Linked DNA regions of Homo sapiens. The protein of the gene in region 7 purifies or fractionates together with the protein of the main gene of each other region. This does not show direct contact. Each region holds a gene or a part of one and is shown on either strand. Other genes may lie near its edges. The genes, in order: KIFBP, CSRP1, RFK, MSI2, TRAP1, ZFYVE19 and UFM1.

Region 1 (2,340 bases), on a different chromosome or scaffold from region 7:
TCAACTCCTGACCTCGTGATCTGTCCGCCTTGGCCTCCCAAAGTGCTGGGAGTAATGTATCACATATATATAATGTTTCACAATTCTCAAAGTACTTTTACATGTAGCATTTATCTTATTGGAAGGAGTAACTGTAAATAAATTTCAGTTCCTCAGAATAAATGATATGTAAGCAGCTTGTCTATTTAAATACTTTTTTTTCCACATTTCTTGAGTTTTTAATATAATCGGAAGAAAGAAAGAAGTTTTCAAAGGTGTTTAAGATTATGATACCCTTCTAAACCAGGCTGGAAAGTAAGAGACTTCTCTTCTAAAAAACTCTGAAGTTTGCTTTAATATTATTTAACAGCAGGAGGTGAGTGTCCTACTTAACCATAATTTATTTTTTTTTCCTTCAGGACAACATAGGAGAGCTTGATCTTGATAAACAGTCTGAACTTAGAGCTTTAAGGAAAAAAGAACTAGATGAGGAGGAAAGCATTCGGAAAAAAGCTGTGCAGTTTGGAACCGGTGAACTGTGTGATGCCATCTCTGCAGTAGAAGAGAAAGTGAGCTACTTGAGACCTTTAGATTTTGAAGAAGCCAGAGAACTTTTCTTATTGGGTCAGCACTATGTCTTTGAGGCAAAAGAGTTCTTTCAGATTGATGGTTATGTCACTGACCATATTGAAGTTGTCCAAGACCACAGTGCTCTGTTTAAGGTGCTTGCATTCTTTGAAACTGACATGGAGAGACGGTGCAAGATGCATAAACGCAGAATAGCCATGCTAGAGCCCCTAACTGTAGACCTGAATCCACAGTATTATCTGTTGGTCAACAGACAGATCCAGTTTGAAATTGCACATGCTTACTATGATATGATGGATTTGAAGGTTGCCATTGCTGACAGGCTAAGGGATCCTGATTCACACATTGTAAAAAAAATAAATAATCTTAATAAGTCAGCACTGAAGTACTACCAGCTCTTCTTAGACTCCCTGAGAGACCCAAATAAAGTATTCCCTGAGCATATAGGGGAAGATGTTCTTCGCCCTGCCATGTTAGCTAAGTTTCGAGTTGCCCGTCTCTATGGCAAAATCATTACTGCAGATCCCAAGAAAGAGCTGGAAAATTTGGCAACATCATTGGAACATTACAAATTTATTGTTGATTACTGTGAAAAGCATCCTGAGGCCGCCCAGGAAATAGAAGTTGAGCTAGAACTTAGTAAAGAGATGGTTAGTCTTCTCCCAACAAAAATGGAGAGATTCAGAACCAAGATGGCCCTGACTTAATCCTTGTTTTTAAAGAAAGGAAATGTGCAATATTGAAGTGATCTTTTTCCCTAGTCAGACAGGCCCAATTCCATTGTGATGTTTACCTTTATAGCCAGGTGAGTGCAGTTTGAACTTGAGATACAGTCAACTGAGTGTTTGCTAGGATCCTAAGGAACATAAAGTTAATTAAAAACTTACACCTAATTATGTAAATTGCCTTGTTAAAGACATGTGATTTGTATTTTAGATGCTTGTTTCCTATTAAAATACAGACATTTCTACCCTCAGTTTCTAAATGTAGACTATTTGTTGGCTAGTACTTGATAGATTCCTTGTAAGAAAAAATGCTGGGTAATGTACCTGGTAACAAGCCTGTTAATATATTAAGATTGAAAAAGTAACTTCTATAGTTACTCCTTCTAAAATATTTGACTTCCTAAATTCCCCCCACCCAAAATCTTTCCCTTTTGAAAATACTAAAAACTAAGTTATGTTATTATAAAGTGTAAAATGGTTTGTCTTAATTATAGGAGAAAAAGGCCTTGTTAGAAATAAAATAAACTGACTTATTTCACTAATGAAAACTTCTGTTTCCTTTTTGTTTTCTTGTGAGCACTGATACCTCAATACATTGATACCTCAATACCTTTGAGGTATTTTTTGATACCTCAAAGATACTAGCTTATTTGAAGCTAGAGAAGAATATTTCTTCAATAACATTGCACAGTTAGAAAACATTAAAATATCATTCATGGGCCAGGCACCGTGTCTCATGCCTGTAATCCCGGCACTTTGGGAGGCTGAGGCAGGCGGATCACAAGGTCAGGAGATCGAGACCATCCTGGCTAACACGGTGAAACCCCGTCTCTACTAAAAATACAAAAAATTAGCCGGGCGTGGCCGCGTGCGCCTGTAGTCCCAGCTACTTGGGAGGCTGAGGCAGGAGAATGGCGTGAACCCAGGAGGCAGAGCTTGCAGTGAGCCGAGATTGTGGCACTGCACTCCAGCCTGGGTGACAGAGCGAGACTCTGTCTCAAAAAAAAAATATCATTCATGGCTGAGTGTGGTGGCTTATGCCTGTAAT
Region 2 (3,500 bases), on a different chromosome or scaffold from region 7:
TCAGGCAGTGCCTGTGGATGAGGTCCTGTCCCCCTCTGCCCACAAGAGGACCCCTCCAGGTGACCCTGCCTGTGGGGAAGAGGCTCAGCTGGAGGGAACCCTGGCAACAGGCAGGGCTCAGTCTTCACTCCACCTCCTCCCTTTCTGCCCTTCTCTCCAACAGCCAAATTCTGCCTGTAGGGAGGCCGAATTGCCTTAAAAGGAAACCTGTTTCTCAGAGTTCATGGAGTGCCTTAGAGGGACACTTGGCTCCTTCTTAATTGCCTTCCCAGCTCTCCGGCACAGAGGCCCTGCAGAAGGCTGGGACAAGAGAAGTTCCCAAGGTCAGAGTTCAGGCTGTACAGGTCAATGGTTAGGAAAACAAGAGCTGGGATTCGATCAATATGGATTTACCCCTTCCTAGCTGAATGATCTTGGGCAAGTTACTTTCCTTTCTGAGTGTCAATTTGCTTGTCTCTAAAATGGACCGTATATGGACTCCCTAAAATTCAGCTGTAAGGATTAAATGAGGAGGTATGGAAGTGATGGCCAGCACACTGTAAGTGCCCGCCCCTCTGACTACCACTCACACGACTGGACCAGTCATACGTCGACTCCACACTGCTAGATGTGGGCCAGCCATCCACATGTAGCTAGTCCACATATGGAAGGAGCGAGGCTTAAGAAGTACCATGCCAAATAGGGCCAGGAACTCCTGATTCATCTGCTAGCCCAGCGAATGAGTCTGGGACAAGTTACTTGCCCTTCTTTGGGGTTTAGCTCCCCCCAGCTGTCTGTGATGTCCCATTTCACTCTGTTGACCATCTCAACAGAGAACAGAGCTTGAATTTTCTACTGAATGGCTGGAAACACCTGGTCAGCTGTTTTCCTGAAACGGCTGGCGGCTAGAAGCCTGCTGTGTCTGCTGCTGCATCTTCCTAGCCTGGCTGTCCCATTAGGACTGTACCCAGATCCCCAGTTAGGACTGTACCCAGATCCTCAGCCTTGAGACAAGAAAGCCAAGGTGGCAGCTCTTACAGCAGCAGCAAAAGGAGAAGAAAAAGGTCACAGACTCTCAGTCACCCCAAATCTCATGAAAGTCAGGCTCGGCTGGGTGTGGTGGCTCACGCCTGTAATCCTTGCACTTTGGGAGGCTGAGGCAGGCGGATCACTTGAGGTCAGGAGTTCGAGACCGGCCTGGCCAATGTAGTGAAACCCCATCTTTAATAAAAATACAAAAATTAGCCGGGTATGGTGGCGGGCACCTGTAATCCCAGCTACTCCGGAGGCTGAGGCATGAGAATTGCTTGAAACAGGAGATGGAGGTTGCAGTGAGCAGCGATCTTGCCACTGCACTCCAGCCTGGGCAATAAAGCAATACTCAGTCTCAAAATAAATAAATAAATAAATAAATAAATAAATAAATAAAGTCTGGCTCAGGTGACAGGTTGAAGGAACCATCGCAGAGATGTAAAATCCCTAACTGCCAGCCACCAGTGTCTGAAGGCAAGCCCCTTCTTATCAAACCCTTCAAAACCATCCCATATCTTTATTTCTACAGTGGAAAAATCCCATCTCTCCCATTCCAAAATCATTTATTCCCTAGGGCCAAAGAGTGACTGACGGCACAGGGTTAAAGTCCCCATCCACTTGCTCCAGTAGAAACCTGTCAGATGTTTATCTAGCTCCCTCGCATTAGCTGAGCTGCTTGGTATCTGCCAGGTGGACAGGAGGGCTGGCATCCCTTCCAATCTGCAGCTCGGCTTTTGCCTCCACGCCCCAGTGTCCAGAGAGCAGCTGAGGGCAGAGAGAGGAGGGGGCTGGGCTGGTCAGGGCTCAGAGCCAAGTCTTAGAAGTGACACCTGAGAGCTCAGGAAATCAGCCTCTCCTGAAGCTCAGGGTCACGGGTAGGGGGAGAATGGCTGCCATGGAGATGGGGCAGGCTTGGCCTCAGCTTTCCATGTCCCACCTCATGTTTCCTTCAGAACCGTGCACATGACCCGCCTCTCTGAAAAGGTAACCAGCATCACTGAGCTACCATCAATCCAGGCCCCATGGGCCTCCAGAACTTGACTGTCATTCTAGGTCAGGAATCCTTCTCTCTATTGAATGAGCTTTCTCTTTTCAAATCCATGTCCAGTGGCCCTTGTGAGACTGTGAGCTGACAAGGGCGGTATATGTCTCTCCCTTTCCCCACTTGCCCCCAGTGCCTTCTAGAGCAGAGCTCCCTACTCTTGGAGTTCAGAAGTTTGCAGGGCGCAGTGGCTCATTCCTATAATCCTAGCACTTGGGGAGGCTGAGGTGGGTGGATCATTTAAGGTCAGGAGTTTGAGACCAGCCTGGCCAACAGCGTGAAACCCCATCTCTACTAAATATACAAAAAAAAAAAAAAAATTAGCTGAGTGTGATGGTGCACACCTGTAATCCCAGCTACTTGGGAGGCTGAGGCAGGAGAATTGCTTGAACCCGGAGGCAGAGGTTGCAGTGAGCCAAGATCGTGCCACTGCACTCCAGCCTGGGGGACAAAAGCGAAACTCTGTCTCAAAAAAAAGAAGTCTGAAGGTCAACACAGGTAGAAATGGAGGTCGATGACTTCTTTGTAGTATTTCAAAACTTCTACAGGAAATCCTGTATTATAATAAAGCCTCATAGACAAATTAACAGATGGGGTTTCCTTGCTTTTATCCAGATCTGTAATGATGTTGGTTATTCCATGCTGAACAAAATGGTCTGAATGATTTTTCTTTGATTAATTTTTTACAAGTTAAAACACATTAGCACTTAGGCCTTAAAAACACAGGTCGTTTGCAGCTGACATCCCAGGAAGCACCAACACACGCCACCCCTGCATAAAGAAAGCCAGGCACACAGTCGGGGGTAGGGGGTGCTGGCTGCCTAGCTGGGGCTGAGCTCCAGCTGCTAACCTTCCATTTCTTCCCCTGTTGTCACCGCTGAAGACTCAGACGCTGCCTTCTGGCCCTGGGGAAGCACTGGAAATACCAGAGTCTGGAAATGCTAGCTGCCCCCGTATTTACACACTTTACCATACATGGGAATTACTCAGTGCTGGCGTCAGACACATTCCTGGGTAGCTGCGTAGTACAGGCACGTCATTACCATATAAATTCTTGACAACTAGAAACAGCAGTCGGAACCCAGGACCCCTCCACCTCACCTTCTCTGCCCTCCCCTCAAGTTTTGCTAGCTCTCTCTTTCTCAAGCACGCTCTTTTCCAGGCTTGTTTTCTTTCTGCAAACCTGGCTCTGAAACTCAAACATGCAGAGCTGGTGAAAGCATATCCATTAGTGGCTGGGAACTAACTCTCAGGGGTCCCCTCTGCTCCTACCTGGCCATGCAACAGACTGAAAACCCGGAGGTCAGGAGTTCTAACCCTGATCCATCCAAGTGAAAGATATCTTCCTTAAATAGTTTATAAGCCACTGTAAAGCACCTTGTAAAGCTGATGTGTTTCACAAATGGCAGATATTTCCTTAGTGAGTTGATCTGGAAAAAGGAAATGT
Region 3 (4,138 bases), on a different chromosome or scaffold from region 7:
ATTACTATTATCGTTATTCTCATTATTCTTTGTTTAATTCCGTATAGATAAGTAACTGACCATAATTGCTTCTTTGGGTCCTTCTCTCCCTTCCCTTCCCTTTTCTTCCCTTTCACTTTCCCTTCCCCTTTCCTTTCCCTTCCCTCCCTTCCTTCTTCTTCTCTAGTTCTTTTAAGGGGTGAGGGTGTCTCACTGTGTCGCCCAGTCTGGAGTGCAGTGGCGTTATCATAGCTCAGTGCAGCCTCGACCTCCTGGGCTCAATCAATCCTCCCGCGTCGGCCTCTCAAACTACTGGGAATACAGGCGTGAGCCACCAAGCCTGGCCTAGAACATAAATTTAATATCAGGTAAATCTTATCAGAGATGCATACATGTAAGGTAGAAAGAGACTACACGGTCTGCACAGAATTTTATACAAATGTATAGAGCAAAAAAGAAAAAAATTAAACTTCTCTGGATTCCATTGATTAAAAATTTAAAAAAATAAATAAAAAACTTCTTTGTCTTCGAGACGTTAAGAGGATGCACCTTCTTATAACCTTGCACCCTGCATATCCTGTGAGTGAGCCCAGAGCTACTTCCCTAGGAGCGTGCGTATTTACAGTTCCGAGGGTACGAAGGCCTCTATCTGCATTGCAGTAGAGGGACGGCCTGTTATCGGGCTTGTGAAATTGTCAAGAAGACAGCCTGGAGGGGACAGTCACCGCCCATGTCGGTAACCTTCCACTAGTCTCTGGGGTTAACAGCGTCACAGACAGGGACTTCTCCCTTGGAGCTTACATTCGAATATATTAATAACTCCAGAACGTGGTCAGTGGTCCTGGAGGACGACCGCTTCTGGTAGGGCGGCCAGGAAAAGCCTCTGTGAAGAGGCGATCTTTGAGCTGAATTTTGGAGCTTTAATAAATACTTAAAGAGCGAACGGAACGAGCGATGCCTGACGTTCAACCCAGCGGTTGCCAAGGAGCTAAAGAGCGTCTCACTTTGGCTTCCGGATTGTTATGAACAGGAGGAAGGAGAAAAAAAAACCAGAATTGTTCGAGAATTGTGCTTTCGCGGCTCTCAGGCTGAAAACGGGGTTTCCACATTAGTTCCCATCGCCAGGGGCTGAAACGAAGCCCGGGATCCAGACATTAGGCGCCTGGGGCGGGAGCCTGCAGCGGGAGCTTGCGGCGGGAGCCGGGCGAGGCAGCGGCGGGGCGGGGCCATGATGGGGCGGGGCTACGGAAGCCGAGCGGGCTCGAGGCGTTCGGCTGAGGAAGGGAGCGCACGCCGGCGGCGCGGAGGCCGGCTCTGCGCTTCGGGCCGCCCCCTCCCCCCACCCCGCTCACACCCGGCACTTACTTCGGCTGTCTCCGCTGCCCTCCAGCGGAGACGCAGCTCCTCAGGCGCCCGGCGGTATTTGTTGGGTCGGCGGCGTCAGGGATTCGCAGTGGCCTGTGGTCGGCGTCGTCCGGCCACTGGTGCGCCCCCGCGGCAGGCAGAGCTCACGCTCCTGTCCCCCGGCTGGTCCGGGGTCTGGGCGCCGCGTCGACGGCGGCTCCGCAGGACGCGCAGACCGGGCCGCAGCCCATTCCCCGAGCGGACTGCATTATGAGGCACCTGCCTTACTTCTGCCGGGGTCAAGTGGTGCGGGGCTTCGGCCGCGGCTCCAAGCAGCTGGGCATCCCCACAGGTGAGAGCAGGGCGGCCAGAGTCCCCCGGGCCGGGTCACGTGGGGAGCGGGGAGAGACGGCAGCCGGGGACTTGGGACCGGGGCGTGGGGCCTCCGGACCGCGGGCAGAGAGCACACCCTTCCTCCTCCCGCATCCCCTTGTCTGTGGCGGAGGACCGTTGGCTCGGTTGAGGGAGCTTGTCCCTGCTTCTGGCTCCGAGCTCCGCGGGGACGGGGTTGAGGGGTGGTGAGGGCCGGAAGCCCGAGATGAATCGCAGGATTCCCCGTTCACGCCTCCTTGGCCAGCCAAGGTACAGTTGGTCAAGCATTGCGCTTGTCTTGCCCATTAGAGACGTAACGTGGGCCAGAACGGCTGAACTCGCAAGCCGGGTCTAAGGTGGTTTTGTTTTTAATTTGTAATTATGTAATGTCCAAATGATAACATAGGTAGTTGAATGAGAGTCAGCTAACCTTCTTGGTCTGTCTACATTAATTTCAATAATCGAGACCTGACTGTAATTCATCCTTAGAAATACATGCCAGAGCTGCGTCTTGACTTGTTAAGTCAGCCTTGAGCTTGTGTATTTGAAAAATAAGAAGCTTTGGCCGGGCGTGGTGGCTCACGCCTGTAATCCCAGCACTTTGGGAGGCCGAGGCGGGCGGATCATCTGAGCTCAGGAGTTCGAGATCAGCCTGGCCAACATGGTAAAACCCCGTCTCTGCTAAAAATACAAAAATTAGCTGGGCATGGTGGCGCGTGCCTGTCATCCCAGCTACTCGGGAACCTGAGGCAGGAGAATCGCTTGAACCCAGGAGACGGAGGCTGCAGTGAGGCGAGATCGTGCCACTGCCCTCCAGCCTGGGCGACAGAGTGAGACACCGTCTCAAAAAAAAAAAAAAAAGAAAGAAACTTTTCAGGTGATTCAGTACCTGGTTAGGAAAGAACAGATCTGAAAAAATCCATCTACTCTGGTACTTGTTTTTTGCATCCTACTCAAAGAGTATGGATTTTTTTGGAGAGCTTTATATACTTACCTGGTACTTTATTCATAACCTATTCACATGAATAGGAGAGGGAAATCTGAGCCGGAAAATGGAAGGATGGGATTGATACTTACAGGCAAAGTTGTAGGAGTCTTGTGAATGTAATGATTTACATTAGCCTTGCATGTGATTTTTACAAATGTTTGTTTCTTATTATTATTTTGAGACAGAATCTGGCTCTGCCACTCAGGCTGGAGTGCAGTGGTAGTGCGATCATAGCTTACTGCAGCCTCCATCTGCTGGGCTCAACTGACCCTCCTGCCTCAGCCTCTCTGGTAGCTTAGACTATAGGTGCAGGCCACCATCCCCAGCTAATTTTTTAATAGAGGTAAGATCTCACTATGTTACCCGGGCCGGTCTCAAACCCCAGAGCTCAACATGAGCCTCCTGCCTTGGCCTCTCAAAGTCCTAGAATTACAGACATGAGCCACTGCACTCGGCTACAGGCATTTAATACGAAATTTGTAAGACTCAAAATATTTTCTTCTGTTGTTTAGCTAATTTTCCTGAGCAAGTGGTAGATAATCTTCCAGCTGATATATCCACTGGTATTTACTATGGTTGGGCCAGTGTTGGAAGTGGAGATGTCCATAAGATGGTGGTGAGCATAGGATGGAACCCATATTACAAGAATACGAAGAAGTCTATGGTAAGCATTATATTTTGCTCTGTAACCGAAAATGGTATGATGACTTAGAATAATATATTACAGTATTCGTTACAGAAATAGCTTATCAGTGGTAATCACAACGTAGTTCAAATACTGGAATTTTGGGCAATCTCTGTCTTTTAATTGGAGAGTTTAATTCATTTACATTTAAAGTAATTTCTGATAAGGAGGGACATCTACTGTTTTGCTATTTGTTTTTTATATGCCTTATAACTTTTATGTCCCTCATTTCCTCTATTACTGCCTTTTGTGGTAGTGTGCTTTTTGTTTTGTTTTGTTTTGTAGTGACATTTTAATTCCTTTCTCATTGCTTTCTGTGTATTTCTATAGATACTGTCTTTGTGGTTACCATGGGGTTTATATTTAACATCCTGAAATTCTAAAAGTTTAATTTGAGTTTATACCAACTTAATTTCAATAGCATACAGAACTCAGAAATTGCATCTTTTTTTTTTTTTTTAAAGATGGGGTCTCACTATGTTGCCCAGACTGAAGTGCAGTAGCTGTTCACAGGCCAGGTTGTAGCACACTGTAGCTTCAAACTCATGGGCTCAAGTAATCCTCCTCCAGCCTCCAGAGAGCTGGGACTATAGGTACATGCCACTGCCTGCATCTGGCTCAGATTACATCCTTATACATTGTGGTACCCAATAACAAAGATTAATAATTGGTTTTTTTATGCATTTATTTTTTAAATTATGTAGAAAATAAAGAGTGGAGTTACAAACCAAAATTATAATACTGACTTTGATAATTGCTGTCTGTGAAAG
Region 4 (2,834 bases), on a different chromosome or scaffold from region 7:
TCTTTAGTTTTGTGATTGTAATGATTTCCAGTAGGCAAAACTTAAAACTCCTTGAGGGCAGAGGTCTGATACCTATTCAGACCCCTACTCAGGGGTCGTGGAATGCGGTTTGGCGCCTTCTCCCAGCACTGTTGATAACTGAGGGCAGCACCCGGGAGGGCCCCTTAGCTCCTTCCACCATCTGGGTCCTCTGATCCGCAGGACCTTTGGGGTTTATTCCCTGTCCACTCATGGGTTCTGTGTACCTTCTGCTGTTAATCTACACCCCTCTCCCGTCTGCTCTTCCATCTTAGTGCTCTCTTGCCACTTCATAAAAATGGTGCCACAAGCTCCCTGGGGACAAGGCAGGGACTTCTTCGCTGCTGGAGGCCCACGGCCAGCATTCATGCTGAGGGGTGAGGGTGGCAGGTGCGATTTGATGATATCCTCTCCCGCCCAAGCAAAACAACAGCTCTCCCAGACCCCAGACCTCCTCTGCAAGTGAAAGAACACCAAACAACTCTGTTCAAAACAGTTTATTTTATTTTATTTTTTTTTTTGTCAGACAAACACATTGATTTCTGGACCACAGTAGAGGATGGAAACCTTTCACAAACTTATTTATTTGAAAATACAAATATAAAATTATACTTTCCACATCTGTGATGTGAGAGACTGCCATCCACATAGTAATTTTTTACAACAGGGCTTTAAGAAAGCCACACACAAAGACCTGAAAGATGCTTGAGATATATATATAGATAGTACATATATATGTATATATATAAAAAAAATACTCACTACCAAAGTTCTCATCAGTTTCATACTAAAGTATAAAAGTAAGGGTGAGGTCAGCCACAGTGCTAGGGAAAGTTTTATTTAGATACATTTATGTCCACATGAAACGCTTAGACTTGCATCCTATTACATATGGAATTCGGAGTTTACAATACACCATGAACGGCAGATTGGCTAGCCCACGCTACTTAAGAGGACACTCACAGATTCCACATGGGATGGTACATTATGTACAGAATACAGTAGTAGAGAACCTTCGAGGGAGGCTCTGGAACTTTTGTCTCTCAGCCTCCGGCCCCCTCCCCCATCATGCCCCTGCCTCCCGGAACTGAAATCCTGTCTGAGACAATACATTCTGATTATTTGATAGCCAGGTGTTTGGATTAAGGTTGCCCCCCTGCAGGTCCCCGACAAGAGGGATGGATTTTATTTATATGTTTTTGTGTTTTAGTTTACTTACTTTTTTTTGGTAGAAAAAAAAGAAAGAAAAAGAAAACAAACATATTACAGTATTAAAGTATTGCTTAACTTCCAGCGTCTCCTTGTGTAGTGTCTGTGCCCAGGACGGGGCTGAGCTGACGTCTGCTAGTTTTCTGCTTTGGGGTGAGGGTGGGGAAACCCGCCAGTGTCTTTCTTCAATGTGCTTGCCTGCAGTCAGTCCCTCTGCTCTCCCACTGTCTGCCTTCCTTGGAAGATAGCCTGGCTTGCGAAGCACATTCAAGAAAAAAAAAAAAAAATCTCCCCTCCCCCACCAGCCCCCCACTCTCCCTCTGTTCCTGCGTGCCACTTGCAACCAATAAAGAGAAGTATGAGTTAGTGTTTCTTTTGTAAACAATTTCATATGCAATATAATACAGAAAGCATGGCTGACCTTCAATAAAAAATGTAGTAAACGATATTGCTTTATTCTTGAATATGCTGCAGTGAGTGAATGGCAGAATGAAGCAGTGTGGAGGTGGTGGAGGAGGCTAAGTCCCTAGCCCTCGTTTGCACTAAAGATCAAAATAGGTTTTGTTTTTCTATTTGGAACCAAAAATAAATTTTTTCCCCAAAAACCCCCAAATGAAAAGGAACAACAAGCAAAACCCACCCCCAAGAAATCAAAAACAAAACAAAACCAAGAACAAAAACTGAACACCTTTCAGGTCATTAGAACCAACAATTACCCAATGATTTTTATACTAGTCTAGCAAGATGTGTGTAACATTCACTGGCTGTGATTGCTGTGCAGTGAAACAGTAAATTGACAGCAATAGAGCCATGCTACCTTAAAGTCCAAGCTACAAGTTCAAATTAAGATGAAGGTTATGAAGGATAAAAACGCAAAGGCCTGCTGGGGCTTTGTTTGAATCAAGCTAATGGGCGACTGGGATAGAGCGCGAGGCTGTTTGGTATAGAGCGCGAGGCTGTTTGTTCCCAGTGGATATAAGGAAGGCCACGAGCCAAGTCTGTGGAAGCTGCTAGAGAGCAGACCAAGGCTTGGTCATCTCCGTCAGCCCCATGCCCAGCTAGGACCGGGAATGGGTCCGGGAGCTAATGCCACTCACTCGCCTCTGCTTGGGAGGAGAGGAGTTCGGGGGTCTCAGGCAGATGGATCTGGAAGCCAGAAAGTCACCCGGTGGCTGTTTGATAATTCCGGGGAAAAGCCATCAGCCAAGAGGGTTTCTCCCCCAGGGAAGGCGAAAGGTGGTTCCCATGTTCGCCATTGAGCTTAACTGAAACAAAGACGAGGCTGAAACATCAGTGTTAAAAGAATTTACAAAAATCTTTCAAAATGGACTTCTAGATGGAATGGGGGGACTAACGTGAACCTTAAACCTAGGTAGCCACATTAAAACATATCGGATTTCCACAAGATTTGTGCTATGGGCTACTGGGTCTCTTCAAAAGGTATATAAACATCTAAAACATATTCACACAGATTATCAATTTCTTCTGAGCATTCTTAAAAAAATATTTTTTCTCTTAGTAAAATCATTTTAATATACCATGCCTCCCTCTTTTAAAAAATAAATTAAAAAAATCCAGTTTTGCATATCTAGCATTAGCATTTAAGG
Region 5 (3,500 bases), on a different chromosome or scaffold from region 7:
CTCCCGCTCACCTCGCACCCGGGCCTCGCTGGAAAACTCCTTGCAGTCGGATTTCAGGTGGATGATGATTTTTGTCCCGGTTCTAACTCCCGAAGCTTCGGCGATTTCAAACACTCCAGAACTAAGGCAGGCAAAGAAAGGAAAAGCCAGGTGGATGTGACACTGGGACATACCCTGCATGGGACTCCAGCGGTTCCCGAGGGTTTCATAGGCAGAGCCCAAACAACACACAACACACCTCAAATGCCCCATTTCTGACCCCAGCGCACCACTCAGGCCATCACATGCCCATCAGGAACGATGAGCCTGTCGCAGGCGGCAGAGTTCTCCTGGTTCCCTCGGGCGGGGGGCGGGGGGGCGGGGGTCCTCCACCGACCCTGGGCTTCGAAGAAGCTTCTGGGCTTACCCCAAAAGCAGGCCTGGGGCACTGTGGGGGACTGGCCCAGCTCCAAATCGGGTGCCAGATGCCCAGGGGCAAAAACAAAGGCCAGGGGGACAGGCGCCCCCTAAGAAGAGCAGAAAACCATCTCCGAAGCACAGGAGGGGGGAATCCCCCGGCAGGGCCATGTTGATGCCTTGGCCTAAGTTTACTCTGAGCCCCGCTCCCATGGAATTAAACAGGAATGTTAGTTTTGGGAGAGTGGGGAGTCAAGCTGAGCACAGTGCACACACTGTGGAGCAGAAATGGCATCACGGAGGGAGGACGCCTCGGCTGGCTGGAAGCGGCTCACCTGCTAAAAAGCCCTCGGAGCCAGGCGTGGTGGCTCACGTCTATAATCCCAGCACTTTGGGAGGCCAAGACGGGCAGATCACCTGAGGTCGGGGTTCGAGACCAGTCTGACCAACATGGAGAAACCCTGTCTCTACTAAAAATACAAAATTAGCTGGGCGTGGTGGCATGCGCCTGTAGTCCCAGCTACTCAGGAGGCTGAGGCAGGCCAATTGCTTGAACCTGGGAGGCGGAGGTGGCAGTGAGCCAAGATTGTGCCATTGCACTCCAGCCTAGGCAACAAGAGTAAAACTCCGTCCCAAAGGAAAAAAAAAAAAAAAAAGCCCCCAGCAGGCTCCTCACCCTATAGAGGCAGAAGTGGGCTGGGGAGACAAAGCCAGGAAATGCCAGGGCTGGGAGGAAGCAGAATGAGCTCTTGCAGAAGGTCGGTCACAGGAGGCTGCATAGTGTCCACCAGGCGACAGGCCAGTCCTGCAGCTCAGCCACTGAGAAAGGAGCTCAGCGCGGGCCGGACCTGCCTTCCCGAGCGCAGTGGTGGTGACCAACCACATGGGACCAGACAGGTGCCATAGGCCACCTGGAGCCACAAAAGTCACTAACTCCCCAAAATGGGAGAGTCAGATTTCATATAAAAAGCCCAGAAAATGCCTGTGTACGTTTTCTGAGTCCATCCCTTTCCAAACTCCATGCTAAGGGCTCCAGCTCAGCTTTGAGCTGCCTGTCAGGCGACATTCGTCACTCACCCATCTGAAAGCCACTGGTAACCCAGGCTCCCCGGGGCTGCCGAGCGGGAATAGACCTCCACTCTGTCAGCCACCATGAAAGCTGAGTAGAAACCCACTCCAAACTGGCCGATGATCTTGCTGCTGGCCTCAGCCTGGTTCTGCAGAGCATCCAGGAAGGCCTGTGGGGCAGAGGCCAGTTAGTGAGGCAGCCTCCCCTCCAGAGAGCAGACACTCCCAACACCGTGGCTCTTCTGCGAGCACCGCTAAGACCCCTTCATCCTGAAAACAGCCACACCGAGTACTTTTCCACCCCATTCTACACGTGAAGAGCTAAGTCACAGAGAGGTGACACATTAGCCCTAGGACAACCAGCTGGCAGCAGTGGGACAAGTGTGTTTTCCATTTGATTCCCAAAGCTCACAGTCCTGCCTGTCCCAGACAGGTGGAGGCCTGTGGGTCACACCTGGGGGTGGGGAAAGAGCAGCTTGAATAAGCTCTTTCCCTTGAATAAGCTCCTTCCATAGGAAGGCCAGGAGTGAGGAGAGGCTCCAAACTGGCTTCCATATTCAAGTCTCCTGGACTCTACACTTTGTGGGAAAAAGAGTAGAAATCACGCGCATGCGTCTGTAAGCACCGCACAGCACTTCATTTTTCTACTATAATACTGCCAAAGGTCCTAAGGCCAAAGTCAAGTAAAATACACACGCCCACTGCCCTGGCCCACGTTGTCCGATGGAACTTTCTCCAACAACAGGAACGTTCTGCCAGGTGCAATGCGACAGCCTGCCGAGCACCTGCAATGTGGCCTGTGCAGCTGAGGAGCACAATGTCCCCTTTTATTTAATTTGAATGCATTTACATTTAAACTGCCACATGCAGCTGGTGGCCGCTACACAGGACAGCAGACCAACCTCGAGAGAAATACAACAAAAGACGTAACGTGGGGGTCAAGTCACAGTTAGGGTGGGTTTTTTGTTTGTTGTTGTTGTTGTTGTTGTTTTTGAGATGGAGTGTCGCTCTGTCGCGCAGGCTGGAGCGCGGTGGCGTGATCTCAGCTCACTGCAACCTCTGCCTCCCGGGTTCAAGTGATTCTCCCGCCTCAGCCTCCCGAGTAGCTGGGATGACAGGTACCACCACCACGCCCAGCTAATTTTTGTATTTTTAGTAGAGACGGGGTTTCACCGTGTTAGCCAGGATGGTCTCCATCTCCTGACCTCGTGATCCACCTGCCTCGGCCTCCCAAAGTACTGGGGTTACAGGCGTGAGCCACCGCACCCGACCTAGTGTTTTCATCTTACAGATGAGGAGACTGAAGTAAGTGCTTTGCCCAGAGCTGGAAAAGGGCGACCGCTGGAGGTTCCCAGGCTGTTGGTCTGAGTCCAAATGTGTTGCTCTGCCTCACAGCACTTTTCTGCAAAGTCGATTCCCTGAGCCTTGTGGGCTTGACGCAGAGAGGGTCAGAGGGATCAGTCCCCTCTCACACAGCGCCGTGATGAGAACGGGCTTGGGATGCGGCGTCTGTGGGTTTGATGGTTCTGGTCAGAACTGCTCTGTGGGTCTGGGCATAGTGACGTGCACCTGTAGTCACGCCTCAGGAGGCTGAGGCTGGAGGATAGCCCGGCCAACATGGTGAAACCCCGTCTCTACTAAAGATACAAAAAATTGGCCAGGCGTGGTGGCTCGTGCCTGTAATCCCAGCTACTTGGGAGGCTGAGGCAGGAGAGTTGCTTGAACCGGGAGGCAGAGGTTGCAGTGAGCCAATACAGTTGGTCCTCCTATCTACGGGTTCCACATTTGCAGATTCAACCAGCCAAGGATCGAAAATACTCAGAAAAAAAATAAAAAACAACACAATGATAAAAAGTAGTATAAAAAACATAACTATGTTATATCTATATCTAGCATTTACATTCTATCAGGTATTATAACTAACCTAGAGACCATCTAAAGCATACAAGAAGATGTGTCTACAATATACGGCACCAATTTAATCCGGGACTGGAGCATCTGCAGACTTTGCTATCCAAGGGGGGTCCTGAAACCAA
Region 6 (2,748 bases), on a different chromosome or scaffold from region 7:
GGCAGGAACGGATTCTGGCCCTGGCCAAGCGACTAGCCATGCTGCGGGGACAGGACCCCGAGAGAGGTGAAGGCTGGGGAGCAGCTGCTCACTGGTATCCCTTGGTCAAGGCCTCCCTGGCAGGGCTGAGTCAGGTGCTGGGGGTATTTGCGCCCAGAGATCTACTGAGCCCAGCCCAGAGCCACAAGGAAGGTGGTAGAGCAAAGCAGTGGGTGAGGAGTCAGGGGCAGCCATGAGGGCAGGGGACCTTCAGTCCATTCAGGGGCTGAGGCTTTCGCTCCAGCCCCCAACCTAGCCCTCAGGCCTGCTTCAGTGATGGCCCAGCCCTGCAGGGCTGGGGCAGGCAGGGACAGGTCATCAGGGTGGCTGAAGAGGCTTCTCAGCTCTGGAATAAGTGCCCCTGGGAACCGAACCAGTTCTGGGAGGCAGGAGGGCAGCCACTCATGTGAAATCTCTCACTCTCACTCCCCCATCCCCTGTTCCCATGTCTCCCTCTTCAAGTGACCCTCCAGGACTATCGCCTCCCAGACAGTGATGACGACGAGGATGAGGAGACAGCCATCCAAAGAGTCCTGCAGCAGGTGGGCCTGGATTACCCACCTGCCACCCCTTGTCCCGTCTCCGCCTCATTGCCCCACCTCTACTCTGGGGCTGGGTGGACAGTAACTGTGAAGCTCCTGTTCTCTTTGGGCCCCCTCCTGTGACCCAGACCCAGACCTGCCCACTGGTCCCTGGAGATAGGGAATCAGCAGCCACAGGCCACAAGTAAAGAAAAAGATGAGTTTGAGAAGCTAAGTCCACAGTGCACAGAAATACTGGGAGATGGAGGGCCTGGGCCTGAAGCAGGGGAGTAGTACATCTTCACCCTGTCCGCAGCTCACTGAAGAAGCTTCCCTGGATGAGGCAAGTGGCTTTAACATCCCTGCAGAGCAGGCTTCTCGACCCTGGACGCAACCCCGCGGGGCAGAGCCTGAGGTGAGAAAAGCCCCAGATGCAGACCCCCAGGCTCCCCCCAGCCTTGCTTCCTGCCTGGCTGACTGCTCCTGCAGCAGCTCACATACCCCACTGGGTACCTTACTTCCTCCATTCCTCTCTGATCCCTGAAGGCCCAGGATGTGGACCCCAGGCCTGAGGCTGAGGAAGAGGAGCTCCCCTGGTGCTGCATCTGCAATGAGGATGCCACCCTACGCTGCGCTGGCTGCGATGGGGACCTCTTCTGTGCCCGCTGCTTCCGGTGGGTGCAGGTGGAATGTTCTGTGCGAGAGCTCAAGGGCTGCCTGGATCCCTGACTTGTATCCCTTTGTTCCACAGAGAGGGCCATGATGCCTTTGAGCTTAAAGAGCACCAGACATCTGCCTACTCTCCTCCACGTGCAGGCCAAGAGCACTGAAGACACCCTGGTCCTCCCGGAAGGGCAGTCCCACAGGCAGCGGCACCCATTTCTGGGCCCAGCCACAGGACGTCCGATGGGAGAGCTTGTCTGGCTCTACTGATGATGGATAGGCCCCTTCCTGAGCCTTGGTGTCCCTGGAATGAGGAAAGATTCTCCATTCGAGAGAATGACTGGGAGGGAAGAAGTCGGGGCCCTCCTATTAGAAGCCCAGACTGGAAGTGAGAGGCATGATGGGGAGAGACCAGACTGAATCTACGGGTGAGCCCTGTAACCTGGCTCTAGGGCACAGGCCCCTCCCCTGGCACTTAGTGGGTCTAATAAAGTATGTTGATTCATTGGGCCCAGCATCTCATTTCTACAACCCTATGAGCCTGGGCCCTGTGAGAGGTGGCAGGAACAGAGCAGGCTGTAAGCACAGTTGTGGGGAATGGGGGAAAAGGTTGAGCCATCCTATGAACTTCTCCAGGCAGGAACAGCCCTACCCATCCTGGTGGCCTCATACGAAGTAAACATGTATTCATTCAACTCAACTGTGCTCCAGCTCTGGGCAGCCCCACTTAGCCACCAGTCCCCACCATCTTGGATTTCTCAGCCTCTCTACTACTCACACAATGCACGCAGGAACAATGCACACACACCCTGCTTCCTGCCTTACTGGCAAAGGACCCCAGCTCCTAGGGCTCCTGTCCCAACCTGCCTGCCATTCAGTCTCAGTATCTCTCTTCCAGTAATGCGCCCTAACCGGACCCCTGACCTCTCGGCATGTACCCTTTACATGCCTCTGCATTGCCTCTGCTGTTTCTCTTCCTGCCCCTGGCTGGAACCAACTATAAAGAGCCCTCGGGCTGAGGTCTACCTCCTGCATCACTTTTGGTTGGAAGAGCCTTTTCTGAGGCTCTCAGATCCAGCTAGGTTTTTCCTGTTACTTCCTCTCTGGGATTTGAAACTAGTCTTTGCCATTGGCGTCCCTCTTGTTGGTTATGCCAGTAGGCTGTGTACCTTAGGCAGATAATGTCTGCTTGGCCCCGAGGCCTTGCTAGATTGTGATCTCTCTGAAGTGGAGCTGTGACTTTCGTCTTTGAATTCTTGAGTCCTTTGGATGGATGGATGGATGAGGTGTGTGGGCACAGCCAAGTGACTTAGGTTGTGGCCTTCCTGTGTATCACTTCATTCTCTCCTCCCCTGTCCCTCAGCACAGATATGTTCCACACTCCATTGAGCTGGGGCTCCTAAAGGTTTTATCCACTTGGCTGCCAAGGAAGGCATTGGACAACAGCCAGCTTTCTCCCAGAGAGCCCAGCTGACAGAAACTAGCTGTGACCACACAGACAGTAGGAGTATGCAAATGTCCCTCC
Region 7 (3,500 bases):
TTGAGTGTTTGATCAAATTCTTATTGAGATTACAGCCTGTGCAAAATATTTGTGATGCATTTTTAAGTTTACTTAAGTACACTTTGAAATTCTTTAAAAATTTTAAAATCTTTAAAAGGACACAAGAGTGTACCACATTGAGATTAAAATGTGTTTATTATTAATTTGTACATAATACTATAACAAATAATTGTTCTCAGGTATGTTTAAGGCCTTATTTTAAAAGTTGATTCTTCAATTTCTAATTTAAAATAAGCTTTTAGTTTTTCTCAACTATGTATATGTAATGATTATAGATGCCTAGAGTAGTGTTTCCCAGACAACTAGAACCACACACAAATTAGTACCACCAAAAAAAAAAAAAAAAAAACTTCATGAAGAACAGGGATTACTGGTCAAAAAATACGAGAAACACTTCATTTCTGTTAGGAGTATATTAAAGGCTTTTGAGAAGACCACTAGTTAAATGTGTTTTCCAAACTTGATCACAAAACTCAACTATAATATCTATAAAGTTAGTCCATAGCACAAACATGCTTAAATTTGTTGGATAAATGCATAAACTGTGAAGACATAAACACACTTTGGCAACTGCTGGTCTCTTTAAGAGATGGAATCTACCTTTTAGCTACCAATAAATTCCATACCACATTTCATTGATTTAAAAAACACATCTTTTTAAACATCTCTGAAATAGATCAGGGGAGGCTTGCTATCACTGTTGGCCAAATGGCTTTCACTTAATTGTCTAGGTAACATCATCTACACTTAATTATTATTTCCTAATGACATAATTGGACTATTGCAATCCTTGAGCTTTAAATCAGCAAATCATTACAGAGGAATGTAAGGAATACAAGCCTTGGTTGTTACCTGAAAATCTTCGGTAGGCACCTCCCATTAAACACAGAGAGCATCTGTTCAGATCTTGCAATTTCTATGGAGAAATTTTAGGAATAATCTCATCAGTTTATTTTGCATGTACTTTTTGCTGTTCAAGAGAATTATAAATGACAAAATTGATGGATAAGTCCTAAAGAGTAAACATTGATCTGGGCATAAATTGACAGTGGTTTTTCATTTTTGTAATGTATAATATAAGGTACACTTTTATAATTAATGGTGTCCTAAATACAATCAAAAGCACTGTTTATAATACAGGGTTTTTTTTTTACAGATAAAGCATATGATATAGTCCAGTTGACCCTTGAATAACGTGGGAGTTAGGGGTTCCAACCCCCTGTGCAGTTGAAAATCTGCATAAAACTTTTTTATTTCTCAAAAACTTTACTAATAGCCTACTGTTGACTGGAAGCCTTACTGATAACACAGACAGGCGATTAATATGTATTTTGTTATGTGTATTATATACTGTATTCTTACAATAACGTTAAAGAAAAAATACTAAGAAAATCATAACAGAAAGTATATTTACTATTCATTAAGTGGAAGTGGACCATGGGAAAGGTCTTAATCCTTGTCTTGTGTTGAATATACTGAGGAGAAGGAAGAGGAAGGGTTGGTCTTGCTGTCTCAGGAGTAGCGGAGGCAGAAGAAAATCTGCATATGTCATTCAAGGGTCAGCTGTACTTTCCTTGATAGTTTCACTTATTCTAAAAGATTAATCCTACTTTAGAATTATAGAATTGGTATTTGTACCCCATTCTTGCTAATTATCTTATAGTTTTGTGTGTGTGTGTGTGTGTGTATATATATATATATTTTTTTTTCCTTCTATTTAGTTTAAAGTTCCTGCTGCAACAAGTGCAATTATTACCAATGGTAAGAATTCACTATAAAATTATGTATTACCTCAAATTTATAGAAATGGTGTAAAAGGAACCAAATTAATTAAAATTAAATACAAAAAGCCCCAAGTATATGTATATCAACATAAATGATATACTTACTGGTAAACACTAAGTCAGGGTTATTGTTAATAATTAGCTCCTTTCATTTCTTTGTATATAGCTTTTGATATAGTATAGCACTTTATAATATCTTTTGTCCTTACCAGTTCATGCCAGATTATAACTGAAAATAACTTTATTTAGCAAGTTTTTTTTTTTATTAAGTAAAGTTGTTTGGTAAATGCTTTAGAATATAGAAAGTTAAGCAGGAATGTATCTTTGCTATACCTTTCCTGATAGAAAATTGTTTCTTGTAGGCTTGCAATAATGAGAATTTTATTCCGTTTTAGGTATATAATTAAAAATCTTAATATCTTGGAACACTGATAATCAATGATGATGGAATTAGTCTTGTGAGAAAATAGTGAAATAATAAGATGAGGAGTAAAGATTGCAGGGAGGGCTTAACTGTGTTTCAAGTATACAATGCAGTATTGATGAGTGCTGATGCGTTGCCCAAGTGCAGTTTGGACAGGAGATGGGCTTAATGTGCGTGATGTAACTTAGATAAGGTAGAATTTCTCACTCTAAAATATTCTGCATTCTGTCACATTGAAGTGTTTCTCTGTTGGAAAAAAGCTGGCTTACTACCTGGAAAGTTTTAGGTCATAACTTAGTAACGTGTTGAACTAAATGACTTTGTGAGCTCTCCCAGCCTTAAGATATTATGACCTAGAACAATACGAAGATGATTCATGGCATACCTAAGGGGCTTTTTAGTTTTTTGGAAGAAAGGACAAACATTATTTTTAATTCTATATGGCAAAATAGAATTAATAACCTATATTCCATAGAACTTACCAGGATCATTGCATTGACAGACGTTTTTGTCTAACCCAGCAATGTGTATGAATGCAGAATAATAGTAGATTTCAACAGATAATTTACCTGAAAGATTGTCACTCGTGTTCTTGGATTTAAAGTGTTTGGCTTATGTCTATATACACAACAGCACTATTTTGGCAAATCTCTTTCCTTGCTACTATTTAACCATTTTAGCTTTAGAAATAATGTATGTGATTTTACAACTTATTTTCTAGATGGAATAGGAATAAATCCTGCACAGACTGCTGGTGAGTATTTGAAAACTCATAGAGGAGTGGGTGGGGTTATATATGTCAATTGACACTGAATAGTTAAGCTATTCTAATTACACTTGACAGTATTTTAACATAATGGAGCTGTTTTTTAGGGATTATATACCAGTCTTTACCTGTGTGTCTGAGTAATAAGTTGTTTCATTGTGTATATTGATTGTAGATGTTTTTGGCTACAAGTAACAGAAAACCTAATAGTGGCTTAAGCATTAAGAGTATTTATTATATATAACAAAAAGTCTGTAGATAAGATTGCTTTCTAATTGGAGTATTTTTTGACCTACCTCTTAAGGTAGTTGTGAGATAGTGACTGTAAAGTGCTTCATAGCTTGGATTATTTATAGAAAGCATTCATTAAGTGCTATTATTTTTTTTAAATATAGTCATTTACATTTCAAGGGGCTGAGTCTACATTCAGATCTTCAAACTGTTAAATTTATACAGGTGATATATTGGTGTCCTGACCAGGAGACAGGGTAAAAGTAGTCTCATA

What was found.
Region 1: the proteins of UFM1 (region 7) and KIFBP fractionate together in Homo sapiens (co-fractionation; one large-scale study listed by BioGRID). This does not show direct contact.
Region 2: the proteins of UFM1 (region 7) and CSRP1 fractionate together in Homo sapiens (co-fractionation; one large-scale study listed by BioGRID). This does not show direct contact.
Region 3: the proteins of UFM1 (region 7) and RFK fractionate together in Homo sapiens (co-fractionation; one large-scale study listed by BioGRID). This does not show direct contact.
Region 4: the proteins of UFM1 (region 7) and MSI2 fractionate together in Homo sapiens (co-fractionation; one large-scale study listed by BioGRID). This does not show direct contact.
Region 5: the proteins of UFM1 (region 7) and TRAP1 fractionate together in Homo sapiens (co-fractionation; one large-scale study listed by BioGRID). This does not show direct contact.
Region 6: the proteins of UFM1 (region 7) and ZFYVE19 fractionate together in Homo sapiens (co-fractionation; one large-scale study listed by BioGRID). This does not show direct contact.

What each region holds. Positions count from the first base shown.
Region 1 is NC_000010.11:69,015,143-69,017,482, forward strand, and holds the end of KIFBP (KIF-binding protein), read left to right. Parts: intron 1-398; coding exon 399-1,274; 3' UTR 1,275-1,840; downstream 1,841-2,340. UniProt on the Homo sapiens protein: Activator of KIF1B plus-end-directed microtubule motor activity. Required for organization of axonal microtubules, and axonal outgrowth and maintenance during peripheral and central nervous system development.
Region 2 is NC_000001.11:201,500,624-201,504,123, forward strand, and holds part of CSRP1 (cysteine and glycine-rich protein 1), read right to left. Parts: intron 1-3,500. UniProt on the Homo sapiens protein: Could play a role in neuronal development.
Region 3 is NC_000009.12:76,391,627-76,395,764, reverse strand, and holds the start of RFK (riboflavin kinase), read left to right. Parts: upstream 1-1,338; 5' UTR 1,339-1,593; coding exon 1,594-1,675; exon of another isoform or gene 1,676-1,896; intron 1,897-3,195; coding exon 3,196-3,347; intron 3,348-4,138. UniProt on the Homo sapiens protein: Catalyzes the phosphorylation of riboflavin (vitamin B2) to form flavin-mononucleotide (FMN), hence rate-limiting enzyme in the synthesis of FAD. Essential for TNF-induced reactive oxygen species (ROS) production.
Region 4 is NC_000017.11:57,682,356-57,685,189, reverse strand, and holds the end of MSI2 (RNA-binding protein Musashi homolog 2), read right to left. Parts: 3' UTR 501-2,834; downstream 1-500.
Region 5 is NC_000016.10:3,676,025-3,679,524, forward strand, and holds part of TRAP1 (heat shock protein 75 kDa, mitochondrial isoform 1 precursor), read right to left. Parts: exon of another isoform or gene 1,635-3,500; coding exon 1,474-1,634; exon of another isoform or gene 122-1,473; coding exon 12-121; exon of another isoform or gene 1-11.
Region 6 is NC_000015.10:40,812,837-40,815,584, forward strand, and holds the end of ZFYVE19 (abscission/NoCut checkpoint regulator), read left to right. Parts: coding exon 1-66; intron 67-501; coding exon 502-581; intron 582-876; coding exon 877-975; intron 976-1,106; coding exon 1,107-1,234; intron 1,235-1,311; coding exon 1,312-1,390; 3' UTR 1,391-2,248; downstream 2,249-2,748. UniProt on the Homo sapiens protein: Key regulator of abscission step in cytokinesis: part of the cytokinesis checkpoint, a process required to delay abscission to prevent both premature resolution of intercellular chromosome bridges and accumulation of DNA damage.
Region 7 is NC_000013.11:38,356,351-38,359,850, forward strand, and holds part of UFM1 (ubiquitin-fold modifier 1), read left to right. Parts: intron 1-1,742; coding exon 1,743-1,782; intron 1,783-2,950; coding exon 2,951-2,983; intron 2,984-3,500. UniProt on the Homo sapiens protein: Ubiquitin-like modifier which can be covalently attached via an isopeptide bond to lysine residues of substrate proteins as a monomer or a lysine-linked polymer.